Homo sapiens: one gene and its partner. The protein of the gene in region 2 purifies or fractionates together with the protein of the main gene of each other region. This does not show direct contact. Each region holds a gene or a part of one and is shown on either strand. Other genes may lie near its edges. The genes, in order: FN3K and GMFG.

Region 1 (3,822 bases), on a different chromosome or scaffold from region 2:
TTATTTGTATGAGCAAAAACTGGAAATGATCCAGAAATCCATCCACATGTGAATGGATAAACAGGCTGTGTTAGATCCGTACAGGGGAATGGGCTTTTGACACATGCAACATGGATGTGTATCACGGATGAATATCAAAGGATTTTAGACTTGGATAAATATCAGCATGATTATGCTGAGTGAGAGTGTGGGGAAAAGCAAGAGAGATCAGATTGTTACTGTGTCTGTGTAGAAAGAAGTAGACATAGGAGACTCCATTTTGTTCTGTACTAAGACAAATTCTTCTGCCTTGAGATTCTGTTAATCTATGACCTTACCCCCAACCCCCTGCTCTCTGAAACGTGTGCTGTGTCAAACTCAGGGTTAAATGGATTAAGGGCGGTGCAAGATGTGCTTTGTTAAACAAATGCTTGAAGGCAGCATACTCGTTAAGAGTCATCACCACTCCCTAATCTCAAGTACCCAGGGACACAAACACTGTGGAAGGCTGCAGGGACCTCTGCCTAGGAAAGCCAGGTATTGTCCAAGGTTTCTCCCCATGTGACAGTCTGAAATATGGCCTCGTAGGAAGGGAAAGACCTGACCGTCCCCCAGCCCGACACCCATAAAGGGTCTGTACTGAGGAGGATTAGTATAAGAGGAAGGCATGCCTCTTGCAGTTGAGACAAGAGGAAGGCATCTGTCTCCTGCCCGTCCCTGGGCAATGGAATGTCTCGGTATAAAACCCAATTGTACCTTCCATCTACTGAGATAGGGAAAAACCGCCTTGGGCTGGAGGTGGGACATGCGGGCAGCAATACTGCTTTGTAAAGCATTGAGATGTTTATGTGTATGCATATCTAAAAGCACAGCACTTGATTCTTTACCTTGTCTATGATGCAAAGACCTTTGTTCACATGTTTGTCTGCTGACCCTCTCCCCACTATTGTCTTGTGACCCTGACACATCCCCCTCTCGGAGAAACACCCACGAATGATCAATAAATACTAAGGGAACTCAGAGGCTGGCGGGATCCTCCATATGCTGAACGCTAGTTCCCTGGGTCCCCTTATTTCTCTCTATACTTTGTCTCTGTGTCTTTTTCTTTTCCAAGTCTCTCGTTCTACCTAACGAGAAACACCCACAGGTGTGGAGGGGCAACCCACCCCTTCATGAGAGAAGCAGACAGAAGACATACCACATGATTCTATTTATATTAAATTCCACAAGATGCAAACTAATCTACAGTGACAACACCAATGAATGGTTGCCCAGGGGCAGGGAAGGGCACGAGGAACCTTTTGGGGGTAATCAGTATACTCACCTTGACTGTGGTAAAGGTTCACAGGTACAAACATCAAAATGTACCAAATTATACATTTTAAATGGGTGCAATTTATGTCAAATTACACCTCTGTAGAGAAAAATACGAAGCTGATTTTATACAAAGGGTTATTTTGTAAAACTCCTTCGGGGAGGACCGCCCTGGTCAGTGGCCCCCACCAAGAATCTCCCTGCACATGGGTGCTGTGGTGACTCGGCCCCTGGGCTCACCCTCTGGTGCTGTGTGCACCTCAAGAGCAGGATGGAAAGGCCCCTCCCCATAGCCTGGCTGTCAGATCCCCAGCTCAGAGGTGCACCGTGCAGCCTCCCGTTATTTCCCATTTGCCTGCCCAAGCTCCCAGCGTCTGAGCTCTGTACTCTTTCCAGAAGACAACCAGGTTTAGTGCTGGAAGCAGGCGACCAGCCTGGGCTAGCCCAGTCCTGCCACCTGAACAGAGGGGCTGTGATCCTCCAAGCTACCCGGGGAAGGTGCCACCTGGGTACACAGCTGGTCCCAATGACCAGGCCTCCCCTGACAGAGGGGCTGCGTCATGGTCAGGGCCTGTGGTCTGAAGCCAGACTGAGGGTCGAAGCCCAGCTGCCCCGCTGACAAGCTCCATGGACCCAGGCATGAACTCTGCATGTCACTTTCCTCATCTATAAAACGGATCAGTGACATTATCTGCCTGGTTACCTGCTAGGGCAAGTGGGTGAGTTGAGTTCAGTGAAGTGCTTAGAAGGGTGCCTGTATGTGGCAGTGTACAGAGCATGGGGCAAGCACCACAGCCGACCCAGCTGGCAGCCCCAGGGGGCCTTAGTGCCCAGGTGTCTGAGGAGCCCGCCGCTCAGCACTGCCCCCCATTGGCTGCAGCACACATTCCCCCAGGACCCATTGAGCCCTCCCAAGGAGTGGGAAGCCTCCGGAACCTGGTGCTGTCCGAGGCACAACAAGCAGGAAGCAGGGCAGGTGTCCTCCCTGGCGCCTCACCCTTCCTAGCCAGGCTGCACCTGATCTGAGGTGGGTTCCTTGATCCTGGAGTCCGAGGGGCATTGAGGGGCTCCCTGTGCTCCAAACAGACTAGCCCCCTTCTCGTCTGCTTCACACACAGGGGCTCTGGGTAAGATTTCACTTCATTTCTTTGAAACACCACTCTGCTGGGCCAGCCAAGTCCTGTAGAGCCCGCCACTTGCAGCCCTTGACCTCAGCATCCACAGCAGGACCACAGGACCACAAGCTGCACCCAGCCGTGCTCACCTGGACAGGTGAAGAGGGTGCTGCTCACTGGCTCCGGACAGGTGTGTGACCCCAGGGGAGCCAGCTGTGGCTGAGATCTCGGGGGTCTCGGTAAATCTGGTAAGCTCCATGTGCAGTTCTAGCGAGCCCAGATGTGAGGACTGCCTGTTGGCTGGGAACCCTAAATCTGCTTGGGCTTCATGAGGATCTTGCCCCAGGTGACCTCCAGCTGGGAGAATCACCCTCTACCCACACCAGGGAGAGCTTGGTCATTGTTCGCAGGGACCCAACTAGTCAGGACGGGCGTCGACAAGGAGACAGATTTGAAAGTATTCTCTCTTCAAGAAGCAGTGACTTTGAACTAGCTCTTATATAATGGGTGCTGTGTTCCTAACAAAACCAAAATATGGTCCAATATTGGCTTCTTCAAGAGAAGCACAGGGCAGTTGGGCTGTCCAAAGTCTTCTTTGGAACTTCACAGATTTCAAAGATGATGGTTCAAGAGGCTCCAGTATTATTCAGCCATAAAAAGGAATATGTAAAGAAACGTGTGGCCTAGCCATAGAATGGAATATTATTCAGCCATAAAAGAATAACATTCTAACACCTGCTACAACATGGAAGAGCTGTGAAACATGATGCTGAATGAAAGATACAAAAGATCACATATTATGTGTTTCCACTCATATGACATATCCAGAAAATTCAAAGAGACAGAAGGTACATTAGAGGTTGCCAGGGACCAGGAAAGGGGGAAATGGGGAGTGACTGCTAATGGGTTCTGCTTTAGGATAATGAAAATGTTCTGGCCAGGCATGGTGGCTCACACCTGTAATCCCAGCACTTTGGGAGGCCGAGGTGGGTGGATCACCTGAGGTTGGGAGTTCAAGACCAGCCTGACCAACGTGGAGAAACCCCATCTCTACTAAAAATACAACATTAAGTCCAGGCGCGGTGGCTCGTGCCTGTAATCCCAGCACTTTGGAAGGCCGAGGAGGGCAGATCACCTGAGGTCAGGAGTTCGAGACCAGCCTGGTCAACATGAAACCCCGTCTCTACTAAAAATACAAAAATTAGCCGGGTGTGGTGGTGCATGCCTGTAATCCCAGCTACTTGAGAGGCTGAGACAGGAGAACCGCTTGAACCCAGGAGGCCGATGTTGCGGTGGGTCGAGATCGTGCCATTGCACTCCAGCCTGGGCAACAAGGGCAAAATGCCGTCTCAAAAAAATAAAAAAGAAAAGAAAAGAAAGAAAATGTTCTGGAGTTAAACAGCAGTGATGGTTG
Region 2 (2,914 bases):
GTTCAAGAAGCAGGAAAATTGTTTTCCTTTCTTTTGTAGTCTCTCTCTAGACTGATCATCGTCTTTTTTTTTTACTGTTATTAGAGACAGGGCCTCACTCTGTTGCCCAGGCTGGAGTGCAATGGTGCGATCCTAGCTCACTGCAGTCTTGAACTCCTGGGCTCAAGCAATCCTCCTATCTCAGCCTCCAGAGTAGCTGGGAGTATAGGTGCACACCACCATGCCCAGCTAATTTTTTTTTTTTTTTTTTTGAGACAGGGTCTCACTTTGTCACCCAGGTTGGAGTACAGGGACGTGGTCTCAGCTCATTGCAGCCTCGACCTCCCAGGTTCAGGTGATCCTCCTGCCTCAGCCCCCCAAGTAGCTGAGATTACAGGGGCGTGCCACCACATCCAGCTAATGTTTTTTGTGTTTTTTGCAGAGACAGAGTTTCACCATGTTGCCCAGGCTGGTCTCGAACTCCTGAGCTCAAGTGATCTGTCCACCTCAGCCTCCCAAAGTGCTGGGATTACAGGCATGAGCCACTGCGCCTGGCCTTTTTTTAAAAAATTTTAGTAGAAATGGGGGTCTTGTTATGTTGCCCAGGCTGGTCTTGAACTCCTGGCCACAAGCAGTACTCCCACCTCAGACTCCCAAAGTGCTGAGATTACAGGTGTGAGCCACTGCGCTCAGCCTGTCTTTTTTAGTTTGCTATTTAAAGTCGTGCTCCCTCGGGCATGAGGATATGCGCAGGCAGAGTGCAGATGCTCACAGGAACACCCTGTAACTTGTCAGGCAAGGGGTGCCTTCTGGACCCTGACCCTCCCTACACCAGCAGGAAACCCAAGGACAGCAGCGGTCACTGGGTGGGTGCAGAGAGTGGGTGGCTGAGAACCTGTTCAGGGAGGCAGCCAGGTGGTGGACTGCCTGTGAACCTAGCTCCAAACCCCAGCACATTTGTGTGAAGTCCATTGTCCCATCTGACTTCATACAAAACAGAAATTCAAAGATAAAACTATAAAGAAGGTGACCGTTAACCCCCATGTGTGAGGCCCCCTCCTGGGTGCGGGGCCCTGTGCAATTATCATATGCCCATGAAGCTGGTCCTTGTTGAGTCCTACAGCCTCTAATCCTAGAGACCCAAAATGAATTCAGTCAAGATGAAAAATCTTAGCAGACCAGTTTTCACAGAAATAGTCAAAGAGCTCTTCCACCAAAAAAAGCACCAGGCTCATGTGACTTCGCCCAGGATTCTACCTGATAGTTAAAAGTCGAGTCATTCCTTTAGCAGGGTGCAGTGGCAGTGCCTGTAGTCCCAGTTACTTGGGAGGCTGAGGCAGGAGGATGGCTTGAGCCCAGGAGTTAGAGGCTACAGTGAGCCAGGATCACAGCACTGCCCAATAGCCTGGGTGACACAGTGAGACCCTGTCTCTAAAAATTTTTTTAATAAAATAACAATAATAATAATTAATTTGTTTGCTACCTAAAGTGTTCCCAAACATTGAAAAAGAAGGAAAATTTCTTTTTTTGTTTTTTTGAGACAGGGTCTTGCTCTGTCACCCAGGCTGGAGTACAGGGGTGCTATCTTGGCTCACTTGCAGCCTCAGCTTCCTGAACTCAACTGACCCCCGACATCAGCCTCCCAAGTAGCTGGAACCACAGGCACATGCCACCATGCCTGGCTAATTTTTTTTTTTTTTAATAGAGACAAGGTCCTCCACCAGGCGCGGTGGCTCACGCCTGTAATCCCAGCACTTTGGGAGGCCGAAGCAGGGATCACCTGAGGTTAGGAGTTCGAGACCAGCCTGGCCAACATGTCTCTACTAAAAATACAAAAATTATCCAGACATGGTGGTGGGCCCCTGTAATCCCAGCTACTCAGGAGGCTGAGGCCAGAGAATCGCTTGAACCCAGGAGGCGGAGGTTGCAGTGAGTCAAGATCGCGCCACTGCACTCCAACCTGGGCAACAGAGCGAGACTCTGTCTCTAACAAAAAAAAAAAAAAAATAGAGACAAGGTCTTGCTATGTTGCCCAGGCTAGTCTCGAACTCCTGGCCTCAGGTGATCCTCCCGCCTCAGGCTCCCAAAGGGCTGAGATTACAGGTGGGAGTCATAGTACCTGGCCAAAATTTCATTTTTAAAAAATGATGCCAGCGTAATGTTGAAACAAAAACTCAACAAAGTTTGTACAAAAAAAAAAAAAAGACTCTTAAACCGGTATCATAAATAATCGGTATAAAATTCTGCAATAAAATATTGCTATACAAACAAAAAGTTCTAGAGTATGAACTCTTGGCCTCAAACACAGAGATTCTTTTTTTTTTTTTTTTTTTTGAGATAGAGTCTCGCTGTGTCACCCAGGCTGGAGTGCAGTGGTGTGATCTCAGCTCACTGCAGCCTCTGCCTGCCAGGTTCAAGCGATTCTCGTGCCTCAGCCTCCCAAGTAGCTGGGATTACAGTCACATGCCACCACGCCCAGTTAATTTTTGTATTTTTAGTAGAGACGGGATTTCACCATGTTGGTCAGGCTAGTCTTGAACTCCTGACCTCAAGTGATCCACCCTCCTTGACCTCCCAAAGTGCTGGGATTACAGGGATGAGCCACCTCACTCGGCCAAACACAGAGATTCAAAGTCCATGAATAGGGCTGGAACTCCAGCAGTCCCTTAGCCTATACCTCCAACATCACCCCTCCCCTCATGGCCTGATCCAACCCTTTCTTCCCCCAGGATACCTGGGCTGTCTCTCCGGCAACTCCATTTTGAGCTCCTCTGGGGAAATGTTCTGAGGCAAGAAAACAGAAGAAAAGACAAAGAATGAGGCAGGGCGCAGTGGCTCACACCTGTAATCCCAGCACTTTGGGAGGCCGAGGCAGGCGGATCACAAGGTCAGGAAATCATTCAGACCATCCTGGCTAACAGGGTGAAACCCGTCT

Evidence for each region.
Region 1: the proteins of GMFG (region 2) and FN3K purify together in Homo sapiens (affinity purification with mass spectrometry; one large-scale study listed by BioGRID and IntAct). This does not show direct contact.

Annotation. Positions count from the first base shown.
Region 1 is NC_000017.11:82,741,862-82,745,683, reverse strand, and holds part of FN3K (fructosamine-3-kinase), read right to left. Parts: intron 1-3,822. UniProt on the Homo sapiens protein: Fructosamine-3-kinase involved in protein deglycation by mediating phosphorylation of fructoselysine residues on glycated proteins, to generate fructoselysine-3 phosphate.
Region 2 is NC_000019.10:39,330,364-39,333,277, forward strand, and holds part of GMFG (glia maturation factor gamma), read right to left. Parts: intron 2,764-2,914; coding exon 2,714-2,763; intron 1-2,713.